2 separate regions of the Homo sapiens genome follow, and region 2 is linked to region 1. The links come from fine-mapping of genetic effects on gene expression. A gene starts in region 1. The other region holds a variant in brackets. All regions are shown on one strand. Distances are between the middles of the regions.

Region 1 (10,520 bases):
CACAGTAAAACAAAGTTTGTTCAAAAAGCACAAAAATACAGCAACAGAAAGCAAAAATCATGTTTATGTCATCTCAATTCTTTCTTTTCAGTAATCAGTATTGCTCTATAACATAAGGCAATTAACTACATCTAGCTTCCTCTGATGGCCATATAATTTCTCATTTTTACTTAATAATTCTTTCATATGCCCATCCTCTCTTTTTACTATCTTCTGAGCCTCCCTTTTTGTATTTCAGTTCAACCCTTAAGTCATATGCAGCATACCTCACTCATCAAATCAATCTGACACCCATGAGAGCTCATCCACATAAATATCCTGATTCACACATTTTGCCAAAGTCACCCATGTATTCCACAGTTGTCCACAACACCACAAACTTCAGACATTTGAAATAGCCTTTAAAAATCTGCAAAGAAATCACTTTCTTACTTCCTCATTCCTGCTGTCTCATACCAATTCCCAGCTCCTGTCCTCTTTTTAAGAATGACCCCCTGATCCTGGTAACACAATCATGGAAGTTACAACAACTCTTAGAGCACAGGTTGGAAAAACCTCCAGGCAGAGTTGCAAAATGTAAGGTATTTCTGAGGCTGCATTTCCCATCCCTTTTCTGAACCGTCACCATAATGAGGCGGTCTGTCACTGTGAACACCCAGTGTGTGTCTTGCAAAGTGAGCACCTTGCTCATCATGCTGCTCTTAGAGAAGAGTTTGTGCTGCATGAGGCAAGAGTTCACAGTTGCTGAATGACATCTAGACCACTGTGAGTGGGAGGTGAGTTCTGACGATGACTACAGTCCCCATTAAATCAGTGTATTGAATCTCTCTTTCCATTTTATTTTTTTTTGGCTTTGGGCTTAAGGACTGTTGCTACCATGAGGGAAGTGCTCGTTGCTTGGCCTACAGCAAGTGATACAGCCTGCGAGGCACAGTCCCCAAAAGTCTAGCTGCAATTCTATTGGTGGTTTTCCCCAAACAGCAATAACAAGATGTTACCTGGAAGCACACCAGAGCCAATCATGACTCAGGCCTGTCTAGATGTTTAGATGTCTGGAAATATATTTAAAATGTCTCATGCCTTGCCTCTTGCTGCTGGTGTGAGAACCAGCAGACTTCAAGAGCACAGATAACCAGTATGATGGCAAAATCACAAAATATAAAACTTATATCAGTAACTAATTTGACTTCATTTTAAAAAAGAGCCTGTGACCCTGGCTAATATCTGGCACCAACACTGTGGTTTAAATTCACATTGGTCTTACAATGATTTACATAATTTTTTTTTATTAGAAAGTTTATCCTAATGACTTAATTACCATTTTTGAAAACAGGAATAATTTCAAACATAACATTTTTTACAATAAGGAAAGCCCAACATCCTCAAACTTCAAAATATTCAAACTAAAAATTCCATGTTTTAGTGTTTAGCCAAATTACAAGAAGGATAATTTAGCAAGAAAATGGATAAGCACCTTTGAGAATTAGATGTAAGCCTTATTATTGATTAGTGCTTAGTTCTTTTTCACAAAGTAGATTAGCAATTGATCCTACTGTGTGTAGGACCACCTAGTGTCCAAAGAATAACATCATATATTTGTGTAAAAGAAATAATTTGTAGACTGGGTCATTAGAAATATTTTTCTATCGAAGTAGAAGTTCTTGGCCATTACAGATTAATTAGCCTTCAGCTCTTCAGAAGGATAGGTGTGGCTGGTTGTGGTTTCTTATACATCTTACATGGCTTTTCTTCTAAATAGAAGACACATAGAGAACAAAAACACTTACTGGCTGTTGGTTTGTGAAATAAACTTTTCTTGCCAGGCAAATAAATTGCACTGTGAATTTTTATAAATTAACTTTTTTCATATTATAAAATGCCAAGGCAGACTCTCAAGATATTCACAACCAGAATTAACTCTGTACAGCAAGCGCATCTTCCTCTACCAAGGACAGTTCCAGAGTGTTTTCATTCGTGCTGGTTTTCATCCTGAAGTTGAAAGAACCATAGAGTTTTGCAGACTCTTTGGAAGAGGCAAATCTGTTTCGACGATAGAGCTCCCCCTTCCACATGGACATCATTAACAAGCAGGACAGGATGACGCCCCCCAGCGTGAGGAGGCAGAGCCCCGCAATCACACAGCGGTCCAGGTGAGCCCCCAGCCTCGCACTCTCCTTCTCCAGGCGCTCCATCTCCCGGGCTGCCACAGTGTTGGGGTCCACAGTCACTTCCCGTGGGACGATGTAAGAGATGATCACGAGCAGGATCCCAGTGACCAAGAACAAGATGGCGCTGATGAAACCATAGTCTATAGACTTCCCTGAAGACGTGGCTTCTGAACTTGTATCATCCTCCTCTTCAGATATCAAAGATATGGCAGCCTCTTGGGACCACTCATTTGGATTTTCCCAGCCAAGCTCCCCAGGGTGATTATGCCCTTTTGCTGATGGCGAGCTCCGGTTCCGCTGCTCCAAGTTGATGTTTTTGTCCACATAGGTAAAAGAAGTTTCTAATTCCTGGCTGCAGCAGTTACAGACTTTCCGTTCCGCTGTTATTTGGTTGTTCCCTGAGTGGAGAAGTCCTGGTGGAAAGGCATCTGGCTGAAGAGTACTGTTTTGCAGAGAGGAGGAGGGGGATGCTGGAGAAGAACTAAGTTTAGACCCTTCCATCTCGGTTGCTCTTGGGGTGGATGCACACTGTTTCTGACAGCAGAGAGCAGCTCTTGTGGCTGCTGTATCTGCCTGGTCACCAGGCAGCCCTCTTGAACTCCAGTCCCTGGCATCACAGAGGTCTGCCTGGTTGCTCTTCTTAGCAAGGTAGTGGAGCTCCATGAGAGCTAGTCAGACATCCCCCAGCAGCTTCCGGAAAGTCTGCCAATAGCAACAGAGTTAGATAAGAACCCAACAGAAGCTAAGGTTGTACTTCCAGGAGTGTTGCTCCTGGGGTCCCCATTTCCTTCACAGCTGCACCTGTTTAGCCCCTTTTCCACCTCAAACAGGCAAAAGAAGGGAGGGGATACCTAGTGGCAGGAAAGTGTGGAAGGGACAAATGCTCTCACTTGTCATAGTGATTAACACTGAGAAACTTAAGTCAGGGTAGAAAGGTGCGTGGAGGAAGTGGCAGTGTCTACTGAGAAAGAATACTGCCGTCACCAAGCCAAATTTATTCAAGGACTCGCGCATTCCTGCAAAAGGATCCCTCAAACGAGAAGGCAAGTTTCCTGTAAAAAGACAAATGAGAAAGGCAAGAGCCCTTTTTAGCAGAGCTGCCGATTTTCTGGAGGACTTGGGGAAGCATAGACTTGTTAATTCAGTAAGATTGTAAGTGTTTACACTCTCCCTAGTTCAGAGCAAATTCTAATACAGATTAGCTTTGGAGCATCACCATCAGTGAATGACTATACACCCCTATCAGCTGGGCAGGAACTCAGCATTTTGATTCCATAGCTCTGAAGTAGATGAAAAAGGCCAGCTTAATCAGCCACCTCTGCTAAGCTTACACCTCATACATCCAATGACCCTAGTGACACAGCCCTGTATTTACAAGACCATATGCTGCTTATTCACTGTGCTTCCACTTAGCCCTATTCCCTCACTGCTCCATGGGGGAAGCATGTTCTGGACCCCAAAGCATACAGGCAACAGACCTTACGGCAATCCCTGCAAAATACAATGGGCCAACCCACTCCTCCACACACACACCTGCCTGCTCCAGCTGCAGGATCTGCTACTCCCGTTCCCTGGGTCTGTGTTCCTCCCTCTCTGCATGCTTTGCTATCACACAATGCACAAGAAATTGACCATCTGGATAGTTTTACAAACCCAATCTAGAAGTGAACTGATAATAAAAGACAAACTATAAACCCACAGAGTAAGAGTTCTGTGGAGACAAATAGGTGAGAAGCTATTTCCAAGGTTACCTCTGTAATTTTATAAACATGTCACTCCTCACCCCCGACTGCAGCAAGGGGCATTTCTGGGAGAGAACTTTGGTTTGAGCAGAAAACCATCGGCTTTTCTCTGCCTCTGCCATGTTTCTAAGGAATAAAAATTCACTTTCCACTATCATTAGAGATTTTAACCAAAGGCTCCTTTTATTTTGCTTCCAAATCCAGGGTGATAATTGATTTAACCCAACGGCTTGAGGCTTCTTATAATTCAAAATCCACAGCTCCAAAGCTGGTAACAGAAACACAGGCAAGGGTCACCTAAGGTCAACCTGGCAACTCAAAATATGGGAGAGGGAATTGACATGTTTTCTGCTACACCTAAGAGTTTGTTTAAAACAAAACAAAAAAAGCAAAACAGAAAACGTTTTTCTCCTGTTATCGGAGTTTCTCTACAGTGAAAACAGCAAAAAACAACAGGGCAAAAGAATCACTACTAAACTAGAACAAACCCCCACTAAAGGATCCCTCAATGAATGAAGTGATGGTAACAGGCTTCATCAATTACCGATAACTCTTCTTCCAGTTTTCTCAGGCATTAGGGGCTCTGATTAACCTTTGGTACCATTAACTCATCACACTAGCCTACCTTGGATAAAATCAGCAGGGTTCTTTGAGACTTTCAGTTTATAACAAAAGAAGAGAGAAATCCCCACTTAATTCCCTACGGCCGCCTCTACCTCTCTTTAAAGAAAAGCTACTCCCGCTTGTTCGCTTGTTCTACCGGAGGTATGCTAGCAGCACAGTCGATTTCCTTTGCAGCTCCCTAATCCGGGGTTTCCATTCTCAGTGGAGAATGGATAATCCCAGGGGACCAGCTAAAGACTCTTTTCTTCCGTCCTCTCCCTCTTTTTCCTCTGATCTGCTTAAAAGCCCAGTTAACGACATTGCACCTTAAAGCGAGGGGACACGCACTTTCCCTCGTCCATCTGTCATCAATTAAAAGCATTAATATTTGCTTTAAACTGACACAGGCAAGGCTGATCTCGGGGAGGCGACCTCTGGATGCGCCCTGTGCGAGCAAAGCCGGGAGAGCGAGCCCCAAGCACCTGGCAGCGGTGCCCCCAGCAGGCGCCGAGGAATCCGGCTATCCATTTCTGGTGAACTCTGCGCCCACTGAGGCATTCGAGGTACGGATGTGTCCGCCTAGTACTCGGAGACGAAGGAGAGAGAGCGGGGATATGCGCTCCAGCTCTGCTAGGCTCCAGGGCTCTCACCCTTGCATTCAAAGCCTCCACCCCATCCCACTCCCCGCCACTCACCTTCTGCTTCGGCCACCCGGTGCGGCTCCAGCACCGCGCGCTCTCCCGGCACGGTTCCCGGAGAAAGTCCCCCAATCACCAGCTACGGCACTTGTAGCCTCTGCACGCCGCTCGGCTCCGCCGGGTGGGCAGCGCCCGCCACGGCGGGCGGGGTGGGGCGGGGCGGGGCGCTCCCGGAGCATCCCGGGAGTTGTAGGCCAGGGGCGGTCCCTGCATCCCTCCTGTCTCTGTCTCCTCCCACGCCTTCTGGGTTTTACCCTTCCTGCAGATGAGTTCCCGCCATACCCTCTTACTCCTCCCCAGCACTTAAGAAGACAGCACTGTTTTCTAAGCCTAGAGTGGAGTTCCCTAGCCTCAGGTGTGGCCACAAGACTGTGAAAAGGAAAGTATATTCGACTTCAAATGTGCCAGATAATTTGCATATTTTGTCTTTTTAATAGTCAAAACAAATCTTCCAAGTAGATTTTATTAATCCTCATTTTACAGATGTGGAAACAGGCTCAGAGAGGGTAAGTGCCTCATCCACAGTTACCAACAGCAGCTTCTGAAATTGCATCCAGGAGTCAGATTCGAAAGTCATTGCGTGTCTCACAAAATCAGAAGAAATATGACCATAAGGGGTAAGAGATTGTCCGATGTACCAACACATCCCCTGTATTTAGCACAGTGGTATTCGTTGAATGTATGAATAATAATGACTCAAAATAACAGTTAACATAAATAGCGCTTATTATTGCCAGGCTCTCTTCTAAGCACTATAGATACATTATCTCATTTAATGGTCACAATTTATTGTTAAAGTACTGTAAAAAAAAATCCTCATTTTAACAGAAGGCAAAACTGAGTTACAAAGTAGAATAATTTGCCCAATGTCACACAACTAATACTTAGCAGAGGTGGGGGGGGGGGGATGAACACCAACAGATTCTAAGCGTTATGCTATATGGAATGAATGGAAGAAAGACCAGAAGGCCAGAATAAAAGGGCTCAGGAATAAAGGAAATCTGAAGGTTGAATCTTCTGAGTTGTGACTCTTAGGATAGGACAAGGTAACTGTGTCACCAGCCTCTTTCAACCAGAGTGGACTGCAATAGCCAACAGCCACTGAAAGCCCAGGGTATGTGTAGCTTGCAGATAATCTCCAGTTTTCCAGCATCCTGTTGGGACAATTCTAGGGGAGCAAAAAAGGATTATAGTATGGATGGGCTGGGCACGATGGCTCACGCCAGTAATGCCAGCAATTTGGGAGGCCGAGGCGGGCAGATCACGAGGTCAGAAAATCGAGACCATCCTGGCCAACATGGTGAAACCCCGTCTCTACTAAAATAGAAAAAATTAGCCGGGCGTGGTGGCGCGTGCCTGTACTCCCAGCTACTCAGGAGGCTGAGGCAGGGGAATCGCTTGAAGCCGGAGGCGGAGGTTGCAGTGAGCAGAGATCGTGCCACTGCACCACTCCAGCCTGGCGACAAAGCAAGACTCCGTCTCAAAAAAAAAAAAAAGAAAAAAAGAAAAAAGGGATTAGGGATTATAGTATGTATTATGACATTGTGCTTGTAGCTCACATAAATACTGTGGTTGCTTGCTTTCAAAAGAGAGATCTATCTCCTTTAATGACAATTATGTTGGTATTTCATTACATTGGATAGAATCTATAGTCACATGATTACAGGAGTTCACAATGCTCCCTCTTTAAAATTCTTTTTCCCCCATATGATTATATTTGTAGCCAGTGAGGCCCATTTGTTGATAAACATGACAGATGTATTATGACTTCTCCTTTGCTTACTACACGGTTCTCCAGCATGAATATCTTTCCTCCACTGCCCTATTCCATCCACACTTCAAGGACTAGTTTGTCAAGCCAAATCTACAGGGATGCATCCAGTTCTTAGTACTACATATGCAAAAAGAAATAAAGAGAGAAACTAAGATGTAGAAGGAACTTGAATTTATGTTGACGAGGAAAAACTTAGGAACTTAGGCTATTTAGCCATAGGAGAATACTGAGAGGAAACAATAAACTAGCTTCAAATATTCTGAAGTTTCTAAAAATAGAAGAAGAATTCTATAGTATATTTAAAAGGGTAAAAGCAGAACAAATAACAATAATACTTTTTTGTTAGTGCTATTATGTTATCATCTTTAATTTTTACACCAACTTCACAAGGGAGGCAGTATTATTGCACCCATTTTGCAATGTAGAAATTGAGGCTTGAAAAGATGTAGTTTCTTTTCCAAGGCCTGAAAACTAATATCGGGCAGAGCTAAGGTTCTAACTTGGGTCTGTGTGATTCCAGAGACTTGATCTCTTTGCCAACACATTATACTGAGCAATGCTTCACAATCTTTTTTACAGCAGAGTACACATAAGAGGTGATACTATTTATGGCAATGTGATAAACACAGGAGGTTTCTCATGGCCATAGTTCTGGGGCTGTGGGTACTTCAGTCTCTGCAGGACAGCTTGGAGGGCTAAGGAAATAAATAAGTCAGCACACCTGTGACACACTGGAGTGCTGGAGGATGCCAAAGCACTGATCTGAGAAGCTCTGGATAGCACTATTAAATTTAAGAAGGAGGCTGATTTGAGACTTTGTATAAGGAAGGACATTATTTCTAAAACTTTTAAATTGATGTCTCATGAAAGCAAATTCTCTGGTACTGGTGAGGATTAAAAAAAAAAAGGAGAGCCATTTATTAGTGATTTCATAGAAGGGATTCATCTAGTTGGATTAGAGGACCTCTGTGATTCCCAGGCTGAACTGATTTTAAGTTACTTTTTTTTTTTCCCTGAAGCCTTTTTCTTCCAAGGATTACACCTCCTGTGAACTTTGCTGGGACTTGTCAGTACTGGTGTTTTTGATATTTATCATCCACTGCTTTACGACATTTCTGGAATGGCTAGGTAGCCACTGCATGTGGTTTAACTTCTCACTTAGGTGCCTAAATCTCTAAGGTAATCAATCATAAACTCCTTAAGGTCAGCATCTACATGCTGAACACCTTACCTCCTGCAGAAAGTGCAGTATTTCTGTTGAGAGGGAAGATGTCAAGACTGAACTGAAGACTCGAGATGATTACCTATAATAATACTTGACTGTCTACATATTCTTGAGCATTAAAAATATATCAATTCCAACCAACACCACAAAATCCCCTTTAAAAGTCTGCTGACAAAAAATAGAGATGAACCAATTGAGCACTTGAAAATAAAAGCTCTGCAAAAATTGCCACTTGCTGGAATACTTTCCCCCTCTCTCATAAGTCTATGTCTAAAACTTTCCTGAAAATTGACCCAAGAACCTTTTTCAAAAGCCTTTCTTGTTCAACGTCCTCAACTTATCGTTACCTTTCTAACTGGCTTTCTAGTAGCATAATATGCTTTCTTTTATGCTGTTATTTTAGATATAGAAAAGTATTTCATGTATATTTTATAGTGCTTTCTATGTGATCTCTCCAGATAAAATTTAAGCTCCTTGAGAACCAACATATTCTTTCTATTTCTTTGAAGCTATATGTGGGCATGAAATAGTGCGACACATAGGCAACAGTAGTTCCTCAATATATGCTGATAAAACAATTCACAGTTGTAAAATGTTATCTAGAAATCTACATAATGATTTTGGTCTTACTCTAATTTTAATGTCTCACATTTTCCTGTTTACTTATACTCCGTTTCATGTGAGAGGAGCAATCGTTACTACACTAAGTTAACTAGTTGAAAAATAAGAAAAATTCTGAGAAGTAAATTTACCATGTAAATCAAGGGTAGTGCTGGGACTTTTAACAACCAGCCTCTTGTAATAATTACTGAGGATGTGTTCCAGTTTCTTTTTCTTCAGTAATAATAATAAGGGCTGATTAGTGGACTATTAAGGGATTATTAGTGGAGTTATTATTATGAGAGGCTGGGTCCTAGAGAAGTAAGAAAGACATTTTTGGAATAGGCTGGAGGGAGGATCAGTCATTGAATAGGGATAGCATGAGGAATATGGTCCTATACCCCATACTGGTGCTAAGAATGAAGGTGACCATAATTTAGAGAATGAAGATCTTGTTAATGAACAAGATTCTAGGAACAAAAAAAAGCATTAAATTAGAAAGGTTTCCATTTAATAAGAATGCTTACAGTGGCCAAGTAGGCATGTTACTTAAATAAAGTGGCTGAATACAGACAATAGGGATGGGGAAGATTACCGAAGTTAAGAGCAAGTGCCTTTCCCAAAAGGGGCAGTATCCCCTAACTGTTCTACCTGAGTTTTGTCTTAAGTGAATTTAGACATTAATGAAAGTCAGATATCACAATTTGTTATTCAAAATTCAATGTATTTTAAACCCTTAATGAGTCAGAGAAAAAAAAAATTATTGGGAACATTTGTTTCCCGTAGTAATAGACTAGGTAATTTAGACCTACTCACTGCATTTGGCTTTGAAGAAATGTATTTATATTTGAAACATTTAGAGAACCCAAAATTATTGCATCCAAGGAGCAAAGATTTTTTTTTTCTATCTTTTGGGGAGGGGTGGAAAAGATAGTTTTCTCTTGCTTCTGTATGTAAACACACTAAATTATTTTTTTCTCTTGTTTCTCATCTGTGATACAGACTTCAAAGTTTGTACGCCTAGGACATCTGACCTGGCTTTCACTGTGTTGTGCCAAGGGTAAGAATTGGGATCCAGAGGACCGCATGGTCATTATTTGCTCTTAAGTAAATCATCTGTTTCTGATCCAACACCATGTGTACCTTCAGGATAAAATTAATAAATATGAATATTAAAAACACAACAATAAAACTCAAGAAAAGAAGCTAGCCACTAAAAAATACACAATGTGCAGTTCTATTACATAATTTCATTGATATTTAGTTAGTTAAGAGGCAAACTATACCAAAGTATTTGGAGATGTTAGCAAAACAATAAAGAAAAGCAAGAATGCAGTTACCATAAATGTCAAGAGGTAGGTTGCCTTTGTAAGGGAAGAAAAGAGTAGTGATTCTGAGAAGACTAAAGGGGAGGCTTCTGAGACCTGGCACTATTTCTTGACCCGGATGTGTTTACAAGGGTGTTCTCTTTGAGCTAAATTATCGGAGGTAACCCTCTTTATTTCATGTACTTTTCTATATGCAGTTGTTCATGATAAAAAGCTGTTGGATTGGATTCAGCTGTTGGAGTGGATTCAGGTTCCAAACACCTAATTTGCAATCTCTGCATTAAGGGTTTATATCAAAATCTAAGCGTTCTGTTTTACCTTAAGAAGAACCTGAAGATAGTTTTCTCTGACTTACCTTCACCTGGCATCTTGCTATGCATGG
Region 2 (10,520 bases), 24 kb before region 1:
AATACATTTTAAAATATAAAGCAGAAACAAAGGGAATGCTGAAAACTAGTAAGCAAGCATATGAACTGAAACTCTGGCATATACCAAAGATCCCTAAAATTTATATCCTCTGTGAAGGAATACATTAGAAAAACCCTACCAAGCACAGAGATGACCAGGAGGCTTAACTCTCTTGACCTCAGTTGGGTGAAGGATAGATACATGTAAAGCCAATTCACAAAACAGGAAGTACAAATGGCCAAGAAATGTATAAAAAGATGTGCAATCACGTTAGTAATGGAGGAAAAGCAAATTGAGACAATAAGAAATATAATTTGCCCCTATCAGATTAGCAAACCTTTTTAGTTGGACAATATTAAGTACTGTGGAGGATGCTGAGTAATGACAGTGCTAATGCACAGCTGATGGGAGAATAAATGAGATCAAAGTGGTATCATTTAGCAAACCTGAAGATACTCACACCCTTGGACCTATCAGAGAAATTATCAGACCAAAGAAGAACAAAATGTTCATTATCATATTGTTTATAACAGTAAAATATTTTAAAAAATGTATAAAACAATATAAATTCCCATCAATGGGATGTTAGAAAAATAAATGGTAGCATATTCCACCATTTACAATGGGTACTGCGTACTATATATCAGTGAAAAATATAAACTAAATCAAAGCTATATAGATAAAGGGTAAATTCCAGGAATAAAACGTGATTTTTAAGAAATCCAGCTGCCAAATGACGATACCATACTACATGATTTATATAATGCTTAAAGACATGTGTCCAAATAATATATATAGTGTTTATTTAAAGTAAATGTATAAAGCATTCATAACATATGTAAAATGCATCCATAAAATCCATGTATTAGAAGTAACAGTATTAAAAATTGTGGGAATAATAAATTTAATATGGCTATAATCTCAATGGAAGTAAAAAGGGGTATGAGATCGAAGAGGGGTAAGATAAGCTACAATTCTAATCTGTACTGCCTTGTTTATTTTTTAAAAAACACAATTATCTGTAACAGTTGTGAGGGTGGATTAAGTATTAAGAAAAGTGAACTGTTTCATCTGCTATTGGTGGAAGGGTAAATTCCAATGTCTTTGGAAGGCAATTTGACAGTATCTATCAAAACGTAAAATGCATATACCTATTATTCATCAATTATATTTCTAGTAATTTATTCTATGAATATATTTGATGTAATAAAAAGGTAAATATAGAAAGGTATGTATTGCAGCAATGTTTGTAATAGCAAAACTTTTGAAACAACTTAAAAGGGACTGATTAAATAATGATATGTCCATAAAGTGAATATGCAAAATGAATGGGGTAGCTCTCTAATGGCTGAGAAGAAAAGATCCTTGATATAAACTGAGTAAAAACAAGCAAGGCAAAGAAGAATGGCACTGTATGTACACAGATGTGGTCTCATTGGTGTAAGAAATATATATGCTTAGAAACAAATCTGTGTAAGCATATCCATGAAAATATTTGGAAGTTTACATAAATTGTTAAAGACAGATGCTTCTATGGAGGAGAACTGAGAGAATGAGGTGGAATGAGATTTAAATTTCATGGTATATGCTTTGTACAAAAATGGGTAAGATAAACGTGCTGGGTTAAACCACTATATATTTTGACCTGTAATAGGAAGAGTTTCACACAGTTCAGTCGTCTAATATGCATGATGTAAAGCATGGCTTAGAAGGCTTCCACTATGAGTCAGGTGGATTACTTGAGGTCAGGAGTTGAAGACCAGCCTGGCCAACATGGTGAAACCCATCTCTACTAAAAATACAAAAAATTAGCCAGGTGTGGTGGCACATGCCTGTAGTTGTAGCTACTCAGGAGGCTTAGGTAAGAGAATCGCTTGAAGCTGGGAGTTGGAGGTTGCTGTGAGGCAGGATTGCGCCACTGTTCTGCAGACTGGGAGAGAGAGAGAGAGAGAGAGAGAGGGAGAGAGAGAGGGAGAGAGAGAGAGAGAGACTTCCACTATGACATTCAGAGCACTTTGACAAACAGACCATATAATAGGTCTGAAGGCCTTTTTGCTTGATTGCAAGTGGAACTTCCAGCAGCTTAGGTGAAGCAGAACAAGGGTCAGCCAGTCTCTTGGGACTGGTGATCTGGGTTGAAAAGCCAAGTGCACCAGGGTAGCAATGCGCGGTCACAGAGGCTGTGCTGGGCACAGAAACGATCTGAAGAGATGAGTTGCCAGTAGCAGAGCTTGACGATTATTAGCAAGCCTGTTCTGAGTGCAGTTTTAACAGAATGCATCTATTGGCAGGAGTGTGAGAGGCAGCAAATGCTTGTGGCTTGTTCTTGCTCTGACTGCAACATTAACTCAGCTTTACTTGGATGACTGCCAAGGAGAGCTTCAGGAAGCTCTCCTTGGAAGAGATGCAATTATCCCCTTGCCCTTTTTCAAAATTCTCTCATGTCACTTTGTAGTCTGGCTGTAGCAATGTCATGCCTGATAGCTGGTGTCTGATGTGAGCCTTAGCCAAGGGTGTCATTACCTGGAGAGGGTACAGCGATGTAACCCTACACCATGATCTATAGTGAACCTGTGAGTGCTACAACCCCAAGCTTTTACTGGTTCAACACTGAAGCCAATCTGCCAGGCAGAAGGGAAAAGAGATGATTTGTTTGCTCTGGGATTGGGTCATTGCTGGCTGACTCTGTCAGTTAAAAGGGCCTCCTCTAATTGCAGTGTTCTCCTCTTGTACGGGGTTCTTTTTAAGTGGTTTTGGAGTGTGTGTGTGTGTGTGTGTGTGTTAAATTTTATTACTTTTACTAAATTTCCCTCTATTTTTCCCTTGCAAGAGAATCTATTAAACTAATTGAATTTATTTACCTTATTTTGGTTTCTATTCGTTCATCAATTCGTTCCTCCATCAATCCACTAAACATCACCAGTATAACTGAAACTAAATATTAGACTCTGGGGATGAAAAGCGGTACACTATAGTGGTTAGAAGCATGGTTTCAGGAGTCAGGAACGTGGGCTCTATCCAGGATTATCCACTTACTTGATCTTACATTAGGTTTTCTAATCTCTTTACACCTTGGTTTCCCCAACATATAAATAGAACCTACCTCATAGTGTTATTATAAACATTAAATATCAATATAAAGAGATCTGCACAGAGGATGAAACACAGTAAGTCTACAATACATGTAAACTTTTATTAATAATGATCTATGAAAATTGTTTATTTTATCCTTACAAATGACAGCCATAGGTACAGTTCTGTACCTAGGCCATGTCTGAAACAAAGATGCAGTTTCCATCTTATTAGAGAGGATATTTTAACAGGCTCTAAACTGAGCCTCTTATTCGTGTTCAGGAAAATCATCTGAGGCTGGAGATGGATAGTCTCATATCCAAGGTCTTTGTTCAGAGAAGCCACAGGCAAAAATATGTTACCCTCTTCCTATTCTCCTATCTGTCCAAATAAAATGCAGCTTTAATGCTCTTCTGGGTGGTATAACTGAGTTTTTTCTTCTCTCTTTAGTCCTTGCGTGAGGACATTTATAACATCAACCAATCTTTCAAAAAGCTAGGCAATTCCCTTATGAAATATATTTCAAGGGTTTATTACAAAAAATATACAAATAGCTCTCTGTTCCAAAAAAATTCGTCAAACACTGTGATTTGCTATCAAGTCACAACACAAAACAGACCCGCCACAGGGCTTGGAGCCCTCCTGTAAGGTTTTGGAATAAAGACCCTTAAAGACTCTTTCTCCACCTAATGCAATCCCTCTTACACTTCTGAGCTGATCAGAATTCAATCCAGCGAAGTTTAGAAATAATTTAATAGTGTTTCATTCTTCCTGCTATTAACACCAGAGGCCAAAGTTGACAGGATAGACATCATCTTCAATAAGATTTTGAGGCAGAAACAACTGTGCTTCATGAATGAAAGCCTCTTTGCCCACAAATAAACTTGGCATAGACTATCATCTCCATTTCTCCAATTGCACCTAACTAACATTTCAGAGATTCAAATAATACAAATATATAATACACTTTGACATGATGGATTCCAGCTTCCAACATGCTGGGTTTCCTGTGACCTAAAGAAAATACTCTGAATTATTTCATGCCTTCTCTTAAGGACAAATAGCTGATTCTCATGAATAAGCTGAAAATCCTCAAAGCACAGTTAGTAATATGCAGGCTTAGGACTTAATGTCAGCTCCTCATTTTGTGTAATTTCTTAATGTGTTCCTGTTTTCAGTTCCTTTGTTTATCTGTCGTAAGTATTCAGGGATTTTGAACTCAGCCCCATGGGTAGAACCTACCTTGAATGTGTCAAAATTCAATGACCAACAGCATTTATCTTGTCACCAGTCAAGCTTCAGGTCTCAGCTCCAACATCATTTCCTTATATATACTTTTTCCCCATGATACATTCTCATATCTCCCCATCTTTTTCCTTTCTTGTACCTATCATTAATTCGAATGGTACTCTTATGTAATTATTTGATTCATACCTGTCTCCTCTACTAGATCCAAATTTAATAGAAGGCATAGTGGTATGCACTTATAATCTCTGCTACTCAGGAGGCTGAGGTGGGAGAAGCGGGAGAATTGCTTGAGACCAGAAGTTTGAGGCCAGGCCGGGCAATGAAGTGAGACCTCCTCATATTTAAAAACAAAACAAAACAAAACAAAAAACTCCTTGAGGACAGGTAGCTTCTAGTTTTGCTTTGTTTACCTTTATATTCCATTGCTTAGCAAAATCTCTAGAATTTAGCAATCAATAAAAATTATTAAATAAATGAAAGCACACATAAGAATAAATTTCCTCCAAATTGTTTTCTTTTATTTTACCTTTCCACAGTCATTCCCATATTTCTTTATGTTCATCTAATCCATATTTCATGGAATGAATTATCCCATGCATCTGGCTGAATCCCAATTAAACCTTTCCTCTCTTCCCATTGATAAGTTCAGGAAACCAACCCTTTTCCCCATTGTAACATTCCCATCTATTATGCCTTAGACCATCCCACATAAAGTAGATGTTGTGAGTCAGACACAAGGGAAAACAGAACCCAAGGAGGTAAAGGCAAAGAGATGAATGAATTTTAAGTAATTCTGAAAAATGTTAACTGTGCCTCTAAAGCACTAAAAATCTTTTCCTGAGATTTAGCCATATAAACACAAACCTAGGCATGAAATAGTTTGCATAGTACTCGTATGTTTAAAATACAATTCAACTGTAATATTCACCAATTTTGGAGATATTATAAATAACATAAAAGAAACAATTGACGCTTGGCATTTGAATTTAGTATCTGTGGTTTAGATTATTTGGGAATGACCATGAATACCACCAAGAAGTATTAATTTATACCTTGGGTAAGAATGTCTGCCCTTCATTATGGTGTTTAGAGTAATAAGTAAACATATGTCAGCACTTAGCACAAAGCAGATGTGCAAGGCACCTCTCTAGTAAAAGATCTAATTATTTTACTGGTATTCTTATTTTAATTAGTGAAATTCCATATCTGAATTAAAAGCATTCTTGATTTGAGAAATTATAACAATCTCCAGAGTTATTCCTCAGCCTGGTATAGGCTTACTGACAATTTGCATAGTCTCAGGATTAAACAAAAATTCTTCCAACTTTTAATATTACAGGTTTCTGATTATTTAATCATTCTTTCATGCACACAGCTTGACATAACAGTATTTTGGAAAAGAAAGTAAAAGAGTTAGTGAAAAGCCTCCCAGTGGGAAAACAATTAGTAAACA[T/C]GGATTTTTACCTCCTTTTTTTCCTTTTGTATCAACTCTAGAGGGTGGAAGTTCTGAGAATAAGTGAGCCTTCAGAAACTGCCATTTCTACACATAGAGGGAAAACTTGATAGCATTTCACTTGGGGCATTCAATTTATCTCTTATCTCCACAACACAAACAAGATAAAGGAGAGGATGTCTCAATGGCAGATTCAGTCTAATTTACAGCAATGGCATACCAACTGCAAGCAATGGGAGAAGAAAGACTAAGTTAACAGTGCAGGTGGCATCTGTAAGCCTTAGAGCTTTGATAGAATTTCAACAGGCTGGACATGTTCTATAGTCAGGACTAAACAAACAAACACTAAAACTAAAACAAACAAAAACCTCAAACATTTGTCAATGATTAAAAATGTGTCTTTCCTAGAGGGATAAAGGGAAAGGAAGGGTTAAAAAGGTGAGAATAAAGTTCTGGTAATAACTGATAAGCAGGAGAATGAGATTAAATAAAAGAGTAAATTCCTGGATGCCATGTACATTTTTTTCCTGTTCTGAAATAGAGAGTGCTTTGAGTTTAAGATGAGGATAATACCTTATTCCTCTGTATGCACAAGTTGGTTTGAGACAAAAGGCCCTGCCTCTTCCTGCTGCATGCCATTCTAAGAGACAGTATTTCTTTATGCTGCGGTTGTGCATTAGGCTCAGCTGGCGGAGGTCATGTCTGAATGGTGACAGAGGGAATATGAGCTTGAACTGCTATTCAAGGAAGGATAGCTCTTCTTCCAGCTCATCCACTCTGTCTTATCTCCACTTACAATTTGCTGGCTGCTAAAAATGCTTGTATCTGGTCTTTAAAAACATTCTTTACTCTCGTAGGCAACTTAAGGAATAAGATTAGTCCCAGTTTCGCCAGATATGAACTCTCTGCCTCATTATCCAGCTGCAGAAAATCCATAAGAACTCAATGAAGCTGAGTTTATCAGTCTTCATCCACTCGCTATATCACATTTTTAGGGCTCTGATGTGTCTGGGCCTTCTAGTCTCTTCCCCTTCCGTTTTCAGCCTATCAAGTCAATGTGGTTATCATTTTCAGGCACACAACTTCAACACATTCTCTGTGCTTGATTAACTTGTGGTTGGAAATAGGTGTAAGAAATAGGTGCATAGGTGCACATTTGCTGTTTCTACACTAAAGACCTTGGCACTGAGTTCCAGGTTTGAACTGGTGATCAGAATTTAGACAATTCTGAGAAAAGAGGTTCAGGTCTGACAAACCTGCCTTACTTAGAGTACTCTCTGCTCTCACTGTCAGTGATACTGGAATTTTTAGTCAAGATTCTGAGAGGCTTCCATCATCCTGGACTTTAAGGGATGGTGATGAGCTTGGGGACCCCATAGGCAACACAACCTAACTAAGGTCTTAGCAGTTTGGAACTACTTTTTTTTTTTTTTTTTTAGATGGAGTCTCACTCTGTTACCCAGGCTGGAGTACAGTGATGTAATCTCAGCTCACTGCAACCTCCATCTCCTGGGTTCAAGTAATTCTCCTGCCTTAGCCTCCCAAGTAGCTTGGGATTACAGGCACGTGGTACCACACCCGGCTAATTTTTTGTATGTTTAGTAGAGATGGGGTTTCACCATGATGGCCAGGCTGGTCTCAAACTCCTGACCTCAAGTGATCCACCCTCCCAGCCTCCCAAAGTGCTGGGAGTACAGGTGTGAGCTACTGCACCTGGCCATCTTTAGTTACTTTTAACGTTAATAACAGCTCAAGATTTATCACATACTTAACAATTTATAGAGACAATTTTTAAACAGATTGACTGTACATATTGTCCTAAATTATTATACTTACATACAATAAATGGAATGATGTATCCTTATCTAAATCTAAAGTGCTCATAAGCATTTTGACAAATTTTTCTTATTGGGGGAGGCTTTCTCTCTAAATGTGAAAAAAAAAGTGTGTAAGAACCAAACTGTTTTGTTCATATCAGAGCTTTGGAAAAAGCAAAAAGTATATCGGCAGATTATTTTCAGTAGCATTAGCATAATCTAATTAACAATGAAAATACTTGCATTTACTGGTATTCCCTAATATTTAAATAGGTATGGTTAAATGACCTCATCCAGCAGGATTTTAAAAGAGATCATATTTGAAGGTGTCCAGTGAAAGCAGCAATGAGGGATAACTTTATTATTATATTATTAATTTGGGGGTTATTTCTCCTTTCCTTCCTTCCTTCCTTCCTTCCTTTCTTCTTTCTTTCTCTCTCTGTCTCTCTCTTTTTAACTAATCAAAAGAGAGCTGAAGTATTGAGTTATTTCATTTGGATCTTATGGGTTCATGGGAATGTTCTTTGTAGAGGCAATAAAGAGTTTGCTTTTTTGGCTGGGATGACAAATTATTGAAGTTTCCAAGCCAAAATTATATTCTTTAACCTTCAGTGGTAAAATTCTGTAAGGGATTAAATAGATTCAAAGTAATTTTCCAAGTTAGAAGGACCTTTACAAAATTTGTAGAGGCCCTCATTCATGGAAACATGGTAAGGTCTTCCACGTGGGCCACCATAAAATGTGCCTCCAAAACTTTCACAATAGAGCCTCAACTCTTCTCCCATAGGTCTTTGCATTAGTCAGGGTTCTCTAGTGGGAAGAACAAATAGGATACATGTATATATGAAAGGGAGTTTATTAAGGAAAATGGACTCACACAATCGCAAGGTAAAGTCTCACAGTAGGCTGTCTGCAAGTTGAGGTGCAAGGAAGCCAGTGGTGATCAGTCCGAGTCCCAAAACCTCAGAAGTAGGGAAGCCGCCAGCGCAGCTTTCAGTCTGTGGCCAAAGGCCCAAAAGCCCCGTGGCAAACCACTGGTGTAAGTCCAAAAGTCCAAAAGCTGAAGAAGTTGGAGTGTGATGTTTGAGGGCAGGAAGAGTCTAGCACAGGAGAAAGATGAAGGCCGGAATACTCAGCAAGTCTGCTCTTCCATCTTCTCCTGCCTGCTTTATTATAGCTGCATTGGCAGCTGATTACACGGTACCCACCCAGATTGAGGGTAGGTCTACCACTCCCAGTCCACTGACTCAAATGTTAATCTCCTTTGGCAACACCCTCACAGACGCATCCTGGAATAATACTTTGCATCCTTCAATCCGGTCAAGTTGACACTCAATATTAACCATCACAGTCTGAAACCTGAAGAATTTGAAATTTCCTTTCATCTATACACAGAATGTCAAAAACCTAAACACTCATCAGAGAATTCAACAACAAAAGAGTAGAGATTCAGCAATTTTGTCAGAAGCTTGCTTCAAAATATTTAAGATGTGAGCATTAGCAAAACATGTTCACTATCCAATCCTCAAAAGATTTCTGGCCCCATTCCTTTAATTATCATCAAAAAGCAACCTACTTGAGCCGTGGTATCTTAGTTTTCTGAAAAAAAGTATCTTCCCTTTGGACTCAATATTATGTCTTTAGCTTTTAAATAGGGTCAATATAGGAAGGATCCATTTTGAGAACATTTCTGTAGCTTTGGTAAAACCATTTTTCACTGTTGCTCAGTGTCCTTTATATACAGATCTGTGTGACAAATTCTCCATAGAATTTTGTGTCAAGAAGTGTTTCTCTCCCTAAATTAATACTGACCTTCATTTTTATCAAATACTTTGTAACTTTGATCAAATATTCTTCACCCCTTCTTAATTTTAACAGAAATCTCAAGTTAACTTAAACTTGTATTGGGGTTATTGACTAATTTCAGGGATCTAGTTACTTATATTTTCTTCTCTTTCTTATCAATTTCTAATTAATATTTTTTATTATTAAGCTTTGGTCTAACATCTCAATTACATCAATTCTTTTTGAAACAGATGAGGTATAAATATAGTGACCATATACCGTTTTTTTTCAGGGACATTTTGATTTCAAGTGGCTTTATTCTTTTACTCAAAGAAGATTAGTTGAAATCAAATGATACGCTTCCACATGTATTTGTAAAAATTTCATGAAAATAAATTCACTGGCCATTGGAAATCGGAAAAACTCTGGATCCCAATTTTGGGCTGAGAGAATATTGTCACAAAGCTTTATATCATAAATAAGCCCAGCCTTACTCCAGTTCTCCAGACCCATACTTCCACTGACCATTAGCCATCTTCACTTAAGTGTTCCCCACAGACCTCAAACTCAACATATCCTTCCCATTAAATCTTGTGCTTTTTCCTAAGCTTTCCATACCTTGGCTAGTGACTAATAATTCAAGCAATTTCCTTCACTGCTCCACCCCATTCAAATTAACCATCAACTTTATTGATTTGATCTTTGAAATGACTAATTTATTGCCTCCTCTTGGTTTCTCTCTTCGACATCCTAATTTATTATTTATCTCTGGACCCTTCCTAATCTTCCCAACTATCCTCACCTACTTTTCCAATCTCTTCTCGATCCTATCATCTGAGTGTTCTTTCTAACATTAAAATCTGATTATGCTACTTTCATTTTAAAAAAATGAGTAGCTCTTGCATTATCTACAGAAAAATTCAATTTATATAATCATGACATACATAGGTGTTGTCTCTGACAGCAATACCACCAGCTCCTCCTGTAACCCAAGTGTTGTAGACTTTCACACCCGCGTTTCCCTCCCCTGTCATAGCACAACTCTCTTCAATTCCCACCTTCCTCTGGTAGGTCTGGGAAAAACTGAAAGTGAGCCAGTGCATATGAGGGTCCGCTTTTCTGCTACCATCAGCTCCTACCTGCTG

Alleles and levels. Alleles are on the strand shown, and positions count from the first base shown. SD is a standard deviation of normalised expression in the study named.
With allele T in place of C in region 2, the expression in left ventricle of the gene that starts at base 5,327 in region 1 is lower (moderate effect, 0.54 SD a copy in GTEx).

The links. PIP is the estimated chance that this variant, and not a neighbour inherited with it, causes the effect. A credible set is the group of variants that fine-mapping cannot tell apart.
Region 2: its variant is the best candidate, but not a certain one, in a credible set for the expression of TMEM74 in left ventricle (GTEx, PIP 0.88).

Annotation. Positions count from the first base shown.
Region 1 is chr8:108,782,268-108,792,787 of GRCh38, forward strand. It overlaps TMEM74 (transmembrane protein 74), which reads right to left and starts at 5,327. Exons shown (of 2, transcript NM_153015.3): 1 at 5,209-5,327; 2 at 1-2,870. The coding sequence starts at 2,831. The coding sequence ends at 1,914. RefSeq lists silencers at 4,553-4,847, 5,263-5,442.
Region 2 is chr8:108,758,216-108,768,735 of GRCh38, forward strand. All of the region lies in intron 1 of LOC102723368 (a long non-coding RNA gene), which reads right to left. It also overlaps a transcript of TMEM74 not described here. Among named protein-coding and RNA genes, the nearest start is that of TMEM74, 24 kb to the right of the region's middle. The variant T/C (reference allele first, on the strand shown) is at 5,774.